Homo sapiens: one gene and its partner. The protein of the gene in region 1 purifies or fractionates together with the protein of each later gene. This does not show direct contact. Each region holds a gene or a part of one and is shown in the gene's direction. Other genes may lie near its edges.

What was found. Proteins that work in one complex are often made in the same cells at the same time.
Region 2: the proteins of GALNT13 (region 1) and LRRC3 purify together in Homo sapiens (affinity purification with mass spectrometry; 2 studies listed by BioGRID and IntAct, with this or other methods). This does not show direct contact.

Annotation. Positions count from the first base shown.
Region 1 is NC_000002.12:154,238,917-154,245,935, forward strand, and holds part of GALNT13 (polypeptide N-acetylgalactosaminyltransferase 13), read left to right. Parts: intron 1-3,113; coding exon 3,114-3,280; intron 3,281-3,781; coding exon 3,782-3,989; intron 3,990-6,895; coding exon 6,896-7,019. UniProt on the Homo sapiens protein: Catalyzes the initial reaction in O-linked oligosaccharide biosynthesis, the transfer of an N-acetyl-D-galactosamine (GalNAc) residue from UDP-GalNAc to a serine or threonine residue on the protein receptor.
Region 2 is NC_000021.9:44,450,566-44,458,517, forward strand, and holds the start of LRRC3 (leucine-rich repeat-containing protein 3 precursor), read left to right. Parts: upstream 1-4,944; 5' UTR 4,945-5,090; intron 5,091-5,932; 5' UTR 5,933-6,079; coding exon 6,080-6,853; 3' UTR 6,854-7,952.

The DNA of each region.
Region 1 (7,019 bases):
CATGCTGTGCATTAGATCTCCAGAAGTTATTCATCCCCCATAACTGAACCATTTTACCCTTTGATGAATGACTGTTTACACAGGAAGAAGAGGAAGAATTAATTAAAATATTAGCCCTATTTAATTTTTATGCTACATTAAATAATGACAGTGGAAGTTTTCTCTAAGTAAACATGATAGCTACATTAACAGTAAACTAATTCATTATAATTTTGACACATAAAATGAATATAAAGGTAACATTTGTGAGTGGATTTTTTTAATCACAAAGTAAAGCTTGGTAGAAATACTTTAAGATGCTGTATCGAAATATCTGCTTTTAGTTTGACATTTTAAATCATTTAATTGTTGGCATTTCGTGTAACATACAAAAAATGTTGATTGAAAAAATCTTTTTTAAAAAATGATGCTGAGTAGACTTTATTCACTGTAGTCCTTGAGTGAAGCCACTGGTTGTTGGCTTTTGGACTGCTTTTAGCCTGTTTTTCTAGTTGTACTTCTTTGAGGAGGATGATGATCTTTACCTTACTCTTGGCTTTGCATGCTCAAAGTGATTAGGTTTTTTTAATGAGGCAGGAGAATGGAAATTTGAGGAAAATGGTAGAGAGAACCCTCTCTCATTTACCAAGATGACTTTCTAAGTTTATTTAGTGATGAGCTACTTGGAGATACAAGTCAAATGATGAAGTTCATAGAAATCTTTTGAATCTTGCCACCAGAAAGAGATGACAATAAATCCAACTACTTTTCCCATGCCTTACATTTTTATTTTCTTATATGCACAGTATCTTTTGTATTATAGATGCTTAATAAATCTTTTTCAAATAAATGTATGCTGGAAAATGTTGTAATTGAGGTAAATGGACATTTTTAGCTGGCTATATTGCAGAAGACTTTATTGGGTAGGTGATCTTTTAGACGGTTTTAAAAAATAATGAAGATCTTAACTGGCACACAATCAAGTATCTGTTATATGCCTTCATCTTCCACATTTTATTGTATTTTTTTCACTCCCTTGTGAAGGAAACTAATTTCAACAATGCTGTATGTGTCATGCATTAACCCATTCATAATTAGCAAGAGGTATCTGATTCAGTTTATATTATGGTACTAATTATCTAGCTCTTCAGAATATTTTACATAAAAAAATAACCTCAGGTGAATAAACTTCTGTTTCTGCTCCAGAAACCTTTTGACATTTTTTAATAATCTGTAATCACGTTGACTTAAAATGACATGACAGAAATGCCTGAATGTTGACGAGTTGATGGGAGCAACAAACATCTGCCTGTTAAATTTGGGATCACCACCTACAGCACTACACATATCATTGATCCAAGTGTACCTTGATTGATTGCTTGAAAAGAAAAATCTGGACTTATTTGGATTTATAAGCAAAGTCAAAAACATTTTTCAAAATGTTAAGTTCTAAAAGTAGTAATAATGATGGTGTAGCCCCTTACTAATCAGTGTGCTCTGGGGACCAGCAGCCTCTAAATCATCTGGGAGCTTTTCGGAAATGCAGAAACTTCACCCTAGACCTAGTGAATTAGAATCTGCATTTGAATAAATCTCCAGGTGATGCTGAAATGGGAAAAGTTGCCTTCTCCCTCTCACACGGCGTGTGATGGGGCTGTGGCTTGCTTCTTCAGTGCCCCTCTGCTCAAATCTCTAGGGCAGTATATGGACGGACGGGCAGGTTGTGGGGCTCCGACCCCACAGCAGTGTTTAGGGCCCTAGTGGGAGCGTGCTACCGTGTGCTCTTTTAATTTTGCCATCTATAGGCAGCTTGTGTTAACCAGCTCAATTAGACCCTCTACCTTGTCACTACCTTGTCACAAGGACAGAGGACTTTCTGTATCCGGGGTTCTTGGCTTGGTGTACCGGAAGAGTCACATCACACTTGGGCTTGGAGAATGAGTGCAAGGTTTTATTGAGTGGAGGTAGCTCTCAGCAGATGGGGGAAGCCAGAAAGGAGATGGAGTGGGAAGGTTTTCCCCTGGAGTCCAGCACCTCAGCGGCCTGGGCTGTCTCCTCTGACTGCCCCAGCCAAATTCCGCCTCCTCCCACTGGTCAATGGCTTGCTGGCTTGCCGGTGCCTGCTGGTGCATCCCTCTCCATGTCTAGCCGTCCGTGCCTTCCTCCGCTGACTTGCTCCTCTCCACACCCAGCTGTCTGTTTCATCCAGCTGTCTGTGTCTTCTCGGGCAGATCTGCTCTTCTGGACGTCCAGCAGCTTGTGTGTCTGCCTTCTAGAGTCTGGGGGTGGTGGAGCGGGGGTGGTTATAGGCACAGGATGGCAGGCCAGGGCGGTCTTGGGAAATCCAACATTTGGGCAGGAAATGCCTGTCCTCACCCAGGGTCTGTAGGGGTGGAGCCCTAGCCAGGGACCACGCCCTCTTCTACCCAGCACTTCCCTTCCCTTCTTCCCTGTCATTTAAAGGGACCACGCTCTTACCTTCCCAGCACTTCCATATCAGTGACTGTGCACATTACAGTTTGAGAAATGCTGGTAGTCCATTCCCTTTCCTGATCTCCAAAACATAGGGAAATTTTAGAGGCCAGGATGCATTTAGTAGATTCTGAATCTAAAGGAAACCTAAATCATTCCTTGGAAGTAGACATTGTTTATAGCATCCTCAAATGGAATTAAAAGCATATATGACTAGATTTAGAACAGAAAAATCTGTTTTACATATTTCAAAACCCTTTGGACCCTTGTCTGTTTATGTTCCTATGACTTCTTGAGTTATACATTTTTATTAACAAATGATAAAATTATATTCACTAAATGAACTCATTTGTACCTGTTTTACCAGTTTCAGAATGTTATTTTATATTTCTTAGGTTTTTCTTAGACTTGTAGAAATCATGCTGCTTTGTTCCCTGCAGGAGTTAAAATAAAAATATTAGTAATTATGCATATTTAATTTTCAGAATGCCAACTGATTACTCACAGCAGTTATAAAAGGGAAATGATTTTAGATATTCATAAAACATTTCCTTAGTAAGGGGCTTTCAAGTCTGAAGTTGTGTTATTATGGATATTTCTTTTTAAAATAATCAGGATAAAAAATGCATTTATTAAGATCCCTCTTCTTTTCTCTTTTTCAGATGTAAGACAAAAGTCTACCCTGATGAACTTCCAAACACAAGTGTAGTCATTGTGTTTCATAATGAAGCTTGGAGCACTCTCCTTAGAACTGTTTACAGTGTGATAAATCGTTCCCCACACTATCTACTCTCAGAGGTCATCTTGGTAGATGATGCCAGTGAAAGAGGTACAAACTGGTTTTTTGTTTTTGTTTTTGTTTTTTTGTTTTGTTTTGTTTTGTTTTTTTGTATTAGAAAGCTTTATTATGGCCAAAAAGATAACTAGGCAATGATCTATATTTGCATTATAATTTTACTAGCCCTGCCACAGCCTATCAGATTCTCATCAAGAACCTCATTAATGCCAACTCTAGAAGCAAATAACTAATTCTTTCACTTTCTCTCATGATTCTATATGGTTCTTACCTAAAATTTCAGCCAAAATGACTTTCAAAAATATATCTTTTTTCCAACTCAATTGATTATATTATTGAGCATTCTCATATGATTTTATGGATACTTGACATTAATTAACTAATGAAATCTCTATTATTTTATATCTAAGGCAGTAAATACTGATAGGAATTGGCCACCATTTCTGTGTGTTGAATTTCCATCTTGGTAGTATCTCTGCTATTTCTTAAAACAGTTTCAAAAATTTTTCTTATAAATTCTTATACATGTTACAGATTTTCTCAAGTTGACATTAGAGAATTACGTGAAAAATTTAGAAGTGCCAGTAAAAATTATTAGGATGGAAGAACGCTCTGGGTTAATACGTGCCCGTCTTCGAGGAGCAGCTGCTTCAAAAGGGCAGGTCATAACTTTTCTTGATGCACACTGTGAATGCACGTTAGGATGGCTGGAGCCTTTGCTGGCAAGAATAAAGGAAGACAGGTAAGAATTTATGTGTTCTGTCTGCCTGGGTTATGACTGAACCTCTTAGGACAGTTCCAGATGTCCATCAGAATTTCTCTTCCAAGTTGCTATTTTTAGAAGGTTTATTTTATAGCTTTTCTTAAAAGCACGTTTTCCCACTTGCTTGATAAATAAGACTGCTGTATTCATGCTGGACATAGATAGTTGATTAAGAAATAGTGAAATAATTCAAATAATAAAAACGTGTTAAATTACTTTTTAGGTGAAGGAAATAAATATAATCTAAAATAGTATAATTGTGTTATAAAGCACATTTTCAAAGCACCTTTTTGTGTTCTGACAACCACCCTGTGAGGTAGGTACTGTAGATATTCTTATCTATAACTTATAATGAGGAGGAACAAAGAAGCCACATCTAACTTGCTCCTGTCATTGGAAGTGCTGGGAACAACAATTCAGCTCTTTCCAGTTCTCTGCCAGTGTTCTGTAAACTACACGAGCACCCTTAGTCAGTCTAGTTCAAATCCACCTGGAATGTCTTAAAAATGCACACACACACATGCACACACACAGCACTGAAAAAATTATAATTAAAAAAAGAAACATAAGAGCACAGCTATAAGAATATGTTTAATTATTTCAACAATGTCACCTTATACATACACATTTTGAAATCTGGAAAATTGAATAAATAACACTTATAGAAATTAAGAATCCTTATACATACCTGCAATTCCTTCTGTTGTTGATGAAGTACAAGCATTTTTTAGCAAATATTTATAAACACTGGTGATAAGAGAGTATAATTTCTAAATACCTAGATAACTAACATTGAATGCCAACTGATACAATAACAAAACATTACATAACACCATACTTGCATAGTCATTTCGTCTATAGTAGAAAATTCCTTCTAGAATTGACATTTTTAATTAGACACTCAAGATAGGAGCTACTTAGTCTGAGCTAGTCCAGCCACATCACTTAAACAGCAGGATTTGGTACTTGCCAGGAAGATGGATGGAAGCTGTCAGTAAAATGAAGCACAGCAGTTGAAGAAAGCAGTAGGAACCTTTTAGTCCATAGAGTGTTGTACATGGCTAATAACATTTTTCCACTCTGTGTATTGTACAGTACCCACAGGACAATCAGACTGGCAAAGTAAAATGAACTTAAAAATGAATTTCCTGGCAAATTTTGGTACATTATGTTGTTTTTTTTTTCCACATGTGTTTCATATTCAACTGAATGAGCTTTTAATGTTTCAATACGGTCATACATAGGCTATTTATTTTTTTGATCTAACAACATAATTGCACTGTATTTGCATATGATGAACCCTATTGTCTTGACCTGATTATAAAGTTTAAAACTACCCTAAATAGACAGTCTGTTCAAGATTTTTAGACCTAATTTCTTCTCCTCACAAGTTAAATCATTAAATCTAATAAAGGAAGTGAGAAAAATGTTGATTTTTCTGGGGTCCAGAGTCACCAAGAAGGTTTTCCAAGGCTAGAGGAGTCTTGTTGATCGCAGATAAGTTGAGGCTCTGGTCAGTTGTGTGGAATATAAGACTTCAATTGAAAATGAGTATTGGTGAAACTGGTGTTACAAAACAAGTATGAATAATGGACATTTATGTGCTTTTCATATCTAGGGATGATTCAGAAGCTTATTTGTGTATTTACCTTCTACCAAATATGAAAAACCAACTCTGGTCTTCAGAATTAGCTACAACCAATACAATTTGAGTAGGCCTGAACATTTACTTGTGGAAATCACAGAAGGTTGGTCCCATAATAAAATAAATGAACAGGCATTAGATCAAGAATTAGAGAAGGCACAACATGGATTAAAAGTGTACCTAATGATTTTCCCAAATGAAATTTTCTACCATAGAAAGCTACCATTAAGAACACCAACCTTTCTCTTACTTTAAGAAAAATGGGATAGGCCAGGTGCGGTGGCTCACACCTATAATCCCAGCATTTGGGAGGCCAAGGCAGGTGGATCACCTGAGGTCAGGAGTTCGAGACCAACCTAGCCAACATGGTGAAACTCTGTCTCTGCTAAAAATACAAAAATTAGCCAGGTATGATGGCAGGCACGTTGGGAGGCTGAGGCAGGAGAATTGCTTGAACCTGGGAGGCAGAGTTTGCACTGATCTGAGATCTCCCCACTGCACTCCAGCCTGGGTGACAGGGCAAGGCTCTGTCAAAATAAATAAATAAATAAATAAATAAATAAATAAATAAATAAAACACCAGAGATTAAAGTTGCTTATCTTTCCCTATCTTAAGCTATCATCTAGATTATACATGTAAACTCTTAATTTGAGGACATTTTACTCAGAAATGGTCATGACCCTATCATCTTTCATCGGAAACATTTACTTATACTGACGGATTATGATTTTTGTTGTTGCTGTTTGTTGATTTCTGTTTGTTTTTCCTAGTAGGTGTTTTCTCCATGAAGATGTTCTCAGAACTCTCTAAACTAACGTACCCTACTTGAAATGCAAACTACCAGATCTAATTTGCCATCATCCCTTCTTACCTCCCTGAATGCTATTTCTTTTCAATGGATTATAGCTAAAATGATGCATAATCTCAAAGCAGCTCTACTAATCATGCTGTGGGTGGAGGTTTTATAAAAAATAGACCCTGCTCATCTTGCTAAGTTAGTACTTAGAATGCATTTGGAAATAAACTTGTTTAGATTTCAAAAGATAGCATAAAGTAAACTGTAAGGAATATGTAGTCAAAGGAAATAATTCCATGGACTAATAGGATAAAATGAAGCTAAAGGCATATTAAAGTAACAAAATAATTAAATTTCCTCATATCAGCTATAATCAGTTTGAAGAAGATAATGTAACATTTTAATTATCATGTGTCTATAAATTGGTTTTAATTTCTCTGCAGGAAAACGGTTGTCTGCCCTATCATTGATGTGATTAGTGATGATACTTTTGAATATATGGCTGGGTCAGACATGACTTATGGGGGTTTTAACTGGAAACTGAATTTCCGCTGGTATCCTGTTCCC
Region 2 (7,952 bases), on another chromosome or scaffold:
TGTGAACACCGGGAAGAGTCTGTGACCGGCGAGCACGCCGCACATCTGCCTTGTCTTGACGGTGGCATCACCCACACTTAGTCATGCACACACCTCTTAGGCGTGAGCAGCTGATGGGTTACTGATGTCAGCAACCAGCACCCAGTCATCTCCAGCCCCCAGAGCCCTGGAGCCCCTGCATTGTTGTCCCCATGCTTCTGACCTCCTCACCCCCCACGAGTCTCCTCTGCTCTTGAACCTCCCCAGTCGGAACCTGGCCAGGTGTCCTTTGCATGCCTGGCCTCCTTCACTCTTGGTAACGTCTGCGGATTCATTCCTGTCTACGCTGCAGTGTTCAGTGGCAACTGCATGAATTCACTGAAAATATACTGTAACGTTTGGGTTTGGCTGTGGCATCTCTTCCACTTTTAACATACCAACTTCACAGCTCACATTATTTTAATCCCTTTAAAAGATAATTGATTTAAAGCAAAAATCATAACAATGTGTTGTGGGGTTTATGACACACGAGAAGGTGTGATGGTGATGGTGTAGGGTCCAGGTGAGGGTGGGGGCACCCCGCTGTGGGGATCTTACAGTGTGCCTGACCGGCTGGCACAGGAGAAGCCGGGACAGGAGAAGCCGGAGGTAGGTCACTCTCCACCCTGGGGCAGCCACTGACAGCAGAGTCGCTGCGGAGGGGCCAGGCGGGGAACACACACGGAATCCTAAGGAAAACCTGAGGCTGGAAGAGAGGACAGAGGAACAGGGCTGTGTGGAGCGGCCAGGGAAGAATCAGCACACACCGGGCCCGGCCAGAGCGCTCGTCACCTCAAAACAAGGTCATCAAAGCCAGAATCACCCCAGCAAAACAGCGCAAGCTGGACCGCTGCCCTCACTCAGCTTCTACAGTTTCTCTGCTCGTGTTCTTTGTCCCTTCCAGGATTCCACGCTGCTTTTAGCTGTCACTTCTCCTGTCTTCTGTTGCCTTCCATGAGCTTTTTGCCTTTGAGTGCACTGACCAGTCACTTTGTATGGTGTCTCTCAGTTTGGGTGTGCCCAGGATGTTCTCACGATCGGAATGCGGAGATGCATTTTTGGCAGGAATATCGCAGAAGTGACGTCCTTCTCAGGTTGTTGTATCAAAGGTACGTGATGCCAATCTACCTTGCCACTGATGGCCCGAGCTTTGTCACATAGATAAGGTGGTTTCTGCACTGAAAAGCTGTTATTACTTTTTTAGGTTAATAAATATGTCAAAGCAGATACTTTGATCCTATGGAAATCTCCAATGAAGCTAATTTAAGTATAAGACACACTAGGTAAAAAGTAACAAGGTAAAAGAAGATATCCCATGCTAAACTAATCAAAGGAAAGCAGGAGTCAATTTCAAGTCAGAGTCTAGGGATAAAGAGGGTCATTTCATGATGACACAGGGGTCAACCAGTCAGGAGCATGCACGATGTGAGCACAGAGTCTCAAAACACATGAAGCAAAAGCTGATAGAGCTGCAAGGAAAAATTACAGACAAATCTGCAATTACAGTCAGAGGTTTCAACACCGCTATCAAGAATTTGTTTGTTTGAGACAGGGTCTTGCTCTGCCACCCAGGCTCAAATGCAATGGCACAATCACGGCTCACTGCAGCCTTGACTTCCTGGGCTCAAGAAATCCTCCTGCCTCAGCCTCCCAAGTAGCTAGGATTGCAGGCATGCGCTGCCATGGATGGGTGAGTTTTTGATTTTTTGTAGAGATGGTGTCTCACTTTGTTGCCCAGGCTGGTCTCTCAATAATTAGCAGAGCAAGTAGACAGAAAGTGGATGATAATATGGGCTACTCAAATAACACAGTCATTGCCGTTTATAGGACACCTCGTGGAGCAACAGTACACAAATTCAAGTGCGCATGCAACAACCGCCAACCATAATCGGGGCCATGAAAGAGTCTCAATAAATTTAAAAGGATCCGAAACATAGAATATGTCCTCTGACAACAATGGCTTTAAAGTAATGATCAACAGCAGAAAGAGCTCTGGAAAATGCACAGATATGTGGAAGTGAAATAGCATAGCTCTAAACTCATGGGTCAAAAAGGAAATCAAAGGGAAAATTATAAATTATTTTCAACTTAATGAAAACAAAAATACAACATATCAAAATTTCTGGGATGCAGTTAAAGGTGGACTTAGAGGGAAATTTATAGTACTGAATGCTTGTACAGATCAGTGACCCCAGCTTCCACCTTAAGAGACCTAAAAAAGAAGAGAAAGTCAAACCCAATGTAAGCAAAAGAGGCTGGGTGCAGTGGTTCATGCCTGTAATCCCAGCACTTTGGGAGGCCGAGGTGGGTGGATAACCTGAGGTCAGGAGTTCGAGACAAGCCTGGTCAACATGGTGAAACCCCATCTCTACTAAAAATATACAAAAATTAGCTGGGCATGGTGGCACATGCCTGTAATCCCAGCTACTCAGGAGGCTGAGGCAGGAGAATCACTTGAACCCGGAAGATGGAGTTTGCAGTGAGCCGAGATTGCCCCCACTGAACTCCAGCTTGGGCAACAAGGCAAGACTCTGTCTCAAAAACAAAAACAAAAACAAAAACAAACAAACAAAAAAACAAGCAAAAGAAAGAATAAAGAGTGGAAGTCAATGAAAAAAAAGTGCATCAACGAAACCAAAAAGCTATTTCTTTGAGAAGATCAATACAATTGATAAACTGCTATCTGATTGTTCAGTTAAAAAAAAAGCCACAATTGCCAGTATCAGAAATGAGAAAGATGACATCACCTCATACTTCACAGATGTTGAAAGGATAAAGGAATATTATGAACAACTTTATGCTAATAAATTCAACAACTTATATGCGATGGGCAATTTCTTGAGCGATACAAACTACATACATTCAGTCAAGAATAAAATAAACTCAGCAGTTGTATATCCATTAAATAATTCAACCACATATAAAAATGATAATACATCATGACCACGTGGGCTTTATCCCAAGAACACAAGATTGATTTAACACTTTAAAATCAATCATTATACTCTATCATATTAATAGATCATCACGCAAAAAGATTCTCAATAGATGCAGAAAAAACAAAATCCAACTTTCATTCCTGATTAAAAAGACTCTCAGCAAACAAGAGAAAGGATAGTCTTTTCAACAGTCTGGAAAAAACTGATTATCCACATACACAAAAAATAAACATTGAATCATATCTCATACTATAAACCCAAATAAACTTAAAATAGGTAATAGACCCAAATGCAAACCTTTAAAACTCTAAAACCCTTGTGACTTTGGGTGAGGCAAAGATTTCTTATATATGACACCAAAAGCAGGATCCATAAAAGAAAAACATAAATTGGATTTCCTCAAAATTAAAAAATTCTGCTCTTTGAAAAACTGTTAAGAGAATGAACACACAATCCAAAGGCTTGGAGAAAGCATTTACAGATCACATATCTGATAAAGGACTTGTATCCAGAATATGCAACAAACTCCCAAACTCAATAATAAGAAAATAAACAACCCAATTAAAAGTGAGTAAAAGATTTGAACTCAACGCTTACTACAGGAGATGGAGAATAAACAGATGAAATGATGCTCAACATCATTGGCCAACAGGGAAACGCAAATTAAAACCACAGTTCCATCTATCACCACACACCTATTAGAGTATTTGAAATTAAAAAGACAAACCATACCAAGTGCTGGGGAGGATGTGGAATGTAAAACCATACAATCGCTTTGGCAGTTTCTTAAAAAGTTTCACATATGGCTACCGTGGCATCCAGCCACTCCACTCCTAGACATCTATTCAAGAGAAAGAAAAGCATTCATCCAAAGACTTGTGCACAATGTTCGGATCAGCTTTATCTGTAAGAGCCAACACCAGAAACAACCCAAATGCCCACCAGCAGGTGAATGGACACAAACTGTGGTACATTCATACACTGGAGTACCATGCAGCTGTAAAAGAAATACGCATTGACAAACCAAATGACGCAGGCAAATCTCAAAAATAATTGTGCTGAGTGAAAGAAGCTACACAAAAAGTACATATTATATGATTCCATTTGTGCAAATCATAGGAAATGCAAAGTAATCAGTAGTGACAGAATGCAGATCAGTGCTTGCCTGGGGATGAGGGAGGGCAGGGAGAGATGACCAAGAGGGAACCCGGGGTGTTCACTATGCTGATTGTGGTGATGGTTTCACAGGAGTATCCGAGTGTTAAAACGTACCAAATTGAAATATGTGGCTTACCGTCTGTCAATTACACCACAATAAGGCTACTTTTTGAAAACCATGAGGATGGCTCAGGTCCGGCTCAAATGCCCCCACCCTGCGTTCCTTCCTTGGGATGTCAGACGCTGGAGCTGGAGCAGAAGGGGACCTAGATGGGCGGAGATCTAGCCCTACTCACCCACTGGCCACGGGGTAGGCGAGGGACGCTCAGCAGGGGCTTCCCGCAGACCCAGGGTCTTCAAGCCCCAGAAGTCCTGATGCCAGAGGGAAGAGGGGATTTGCCCAGAGTGAGGGGCAGGGGCTGGACCCACAGCCCCTCCCGGCGCGCAGACCCCGCCCCCACCCATAACCACGCCCTCAGCCCCCACCACCTCGTCCTCAGCCCCACAACCACGCCCCCAGCATGCCACAATTACTCCCACAACCCGCCCACAGCCCCTGCGACCTGGGTCTTAGTACCAGCTCCATCTAAAGCCGCACCACCGGCCCCTCCCATGCCCCTCCCATGCCCCTCCCCCATCTCTTCCAGGCCCCGCCCTGCCGCAGAACCCGCCCTCAAGCCCCGCCCCCGCCTAACCACAAATCCCGTTCCGGTCTCCTTACATGCCCCGCCCCTTCCCCGCCCCCGCGGGGAATCGACACAGCCTGTCTCCGCCTTTCGCCCCGCCCCCTCCAGGCCCCGCCCCACCCCGCCCCTCGCCCGCGCAGGCCGGAGTCGCGGCCTCCCCAGCTAGTGGTCGCGGGCGCGGTCGCAGGGGCAGCGGGGTGGCCGCCGCGCCAGGCGTGGAGCTGGGTCTGGCGGGCTCCGAGAGGCCCGGGAGCGGCGCGCAGAGCAGCCTCCGGCCGCCGCCGCGCAGGTAAAGCCCCCGCCCAGCCCTGGGAGCGTGGATTCCCACCCACCCCATGACCATCCCCCCGCCGCGAGTGCTGGGGTCTCGGGGGTCCCAGGTTCCGGGGGTCCTAGGGCCGGAGGGTCTAAAGGCTGGAGGTCCTGGGGGTCCGAGCCTCTCCCGGCCGGCTCCGCGCGCGGCCCCGCCGTCCACGCCCAGCGCGGGCCGCGCGCACAGGGCTTGGCTTCTCTGTTTTCTCGGTTTCCTTCTTCAGGCAGTTGAAAGAAAAGGCGCGGTTCTGTGCCCGGTGCGAGCCGCGGCTCCTTTAGGGCTGGCAGGGAAGGGCTTGCTGGGTTATGACAGTTTTTAGGGGTTGTCGGAGTCAGCCAGGCGTTGGCTGCTGGAGTAGCCCCTGGCGCGCGAGCGCCCGCTGGTGCCCGGCCACGTGCCCAGCTTGACCCGCGCTCCAGGTTCGGGAGAAGCTGCAGCCGTCACCGTCCTCCTGGCGTCCACCCTGAGGAGGGAGGGGCTGGGTGGTCCAAGCCGCCGCCACTCCGCCGCCCGGCCTTTGGTCCCCAGCGGTGCTGTAGGTGGCCAGGGGTGGCCGCAGTGACCACCCACTGGGCCATGCGGAGCCCCCTGGCAGTGCCAGCTCCCTGCACTTGTGGGACGCTCCTCCCGGGCGCATTGGGAGTCTCCAGAAGTAAGTTACAGGCAGAGCTGTTTAAGGAGGCGTGCTCCCCACCCCAGACCCTTCAGTGGGCCCTCAACACCCTCCCCACCAGTGGACGCGTTTCCCAGGTGACCGCAGCCGGCAGTGCTGACCACCCTCCCTCCCTCTCCGCTCCCTCCTGCGTCTTCCCTTTCAGAGCTGCCAGAGTGGACTGCACTGCTTCTCCCAGCGGGGCAGGATGGCGGTTTCATGTCTGGTTGGATAAGGCCTTGCCTGCGGAAACCAGCTCCATCCCCAGGCCCTAGCAGAGGCTCGCGTGTCCCCGTCCCCAGGTCAGGTCAGGATGGGCACCGTGCGCCCACCTCGCCCCTCGCTCCTGCTGGTCTCCACCCGGGAGTCTTGTCTCTTCCTCCTCTTCTGCCTGCACCTGGGCGCCGCCTGCCCACAGCCCTGCCGGTGCCCTGACCACGCAGGGGCTGTGGCTGTCTTCTGCAGCTTGCGGGGCCTTCAGGAGGTCCCCGAGGACATCCCGGCCAACACCGTGCTCCTGAAGCTCGATGCCAACAAGATCTCCCACCTCCCGGACGGGGCCTTCCAGCACCTGCACCGGCTCAGGGAGCTGGATCTGTCTCACAACGCCATCGAGGCCATCGGCTCCGCCACCTTCGCGGGCCTGGCCGGGGGCCTGCGGCTGCTGGACCTGTCTTACAACCGCATCCAGAGGATCCCCAAGGACGCCCTGGGCAAACTCAGCGCCAAGATACGCCTGTCCCACAACCCCCTGCACTGCGAGTGCGCCCTGCAGGAGGCCCTGTGGGAGCTGAAGCTGGACCCCGACTCTGTGGACGAGATCGCCTGCCACACCTCAGTGCAGGAGGAGTTTGTGGGGAAGCCTCTGGTTCAGGCTCTGGATGCGGGTGCCAGCCTCTGCAGCGTCCCCCACAGGACCACAGACGTGGCCATGCTGGTCACCATGTTCGGCTGGTTCGCCATGGTGATCGCCTACGTCGTGTACTATGTGCGCCACAACCAGGAGGATGCCCGGAGGCACCTGGAGTACCTGAAGTCTCTGCCCAGCGCCCCCGCCTCCAAGGACCCCATCGGCCCGGGGCCCTAGCGCCTGTTCCGGCAGACCCCCGCCGGTGGCTGCTGTCACTTTTGTAGTAGGTGGTGACTGATGCTGCTTTTGCTCTTCCCTGAGGCAGGTGTCACAGCCATGTGTGCTCCCCACTGTTGCACTCAGGCACAGCAGCACCTCCAGGCTGGGTGGTTTTGCCACACATCCGTGTGACGGATGAGGAACCTGAAGCTTAGAGGAACGGAATGACTGCCCGTGACGATACCATCAGGAAATTATCCCAGTGGAACTTCAACCCGGGCTGTCCATCGTGACATTCCGCCTCCTTCCACCATGCCAGCCTCTCCCACACGGGGCCCTGCAGGCTGTGGATATGCACTCAGAGGACTAAGGGGGTGCTCTGCAAGCGAGAGGGTTCACCAGAGGGAGCTTGGGTGCAGGTTCACCCGCTGAAGGCGCTGATAAGTCCTGTGCTGAGGAGCTGACTTGCCCTTGTTTACTTACAAAGTGCATTGTAGGTAAACATGAGCCTTGTTCCAGTGTTCGAAGTACATTGGAACGTAAGCCCTGTTTCCAGAGCAAAGTAACAGAGACCAGGTTTTTCTAGAGAGCTAAGTGGGATGTGTAGCTCAAACAAACTGTCCTACCCTTTTTTATTCTCAAATGTTTGTTTTGAGTAACCGTAGTGCCAAAATTTCAGTTCAGTAATGGGGTGAACAATATGGAGAGAGACCTGGGAAAAGTCCAGGGTAGCTTGCCCAGGGGAAGACAGCAGCCACATACCTGGGGGCCCGCCTGCTTCCTGCCCCTCTGGGTGTGCCTGATGCGGGAGGCCCTGCCCCAGGGCGATCTCAGCTCACTGCAACCTTTGCCTCCCAGGCTCAATCACTTCTGCTGCCTCAGCCTCCCTAGTAGCTGGAATTACAGGCATGAGCCACCACGCCTGGCTAATTTTTGTATTTTTAGTAGAGACCGGGTTTCACCATGTTGGCCAGGCTGGTCTCGAACTGTTGGCCTCAAGTGATCCGCCCGCCTCAGCCTCCCAAAGTGCTGGGATTACAGGCGTCAGCCACCGCGCCCGGCCCTGTGCCTTGCTTTTTCTACTCACTAAGATATAAAACAGCTCTTTTTCCAAGGC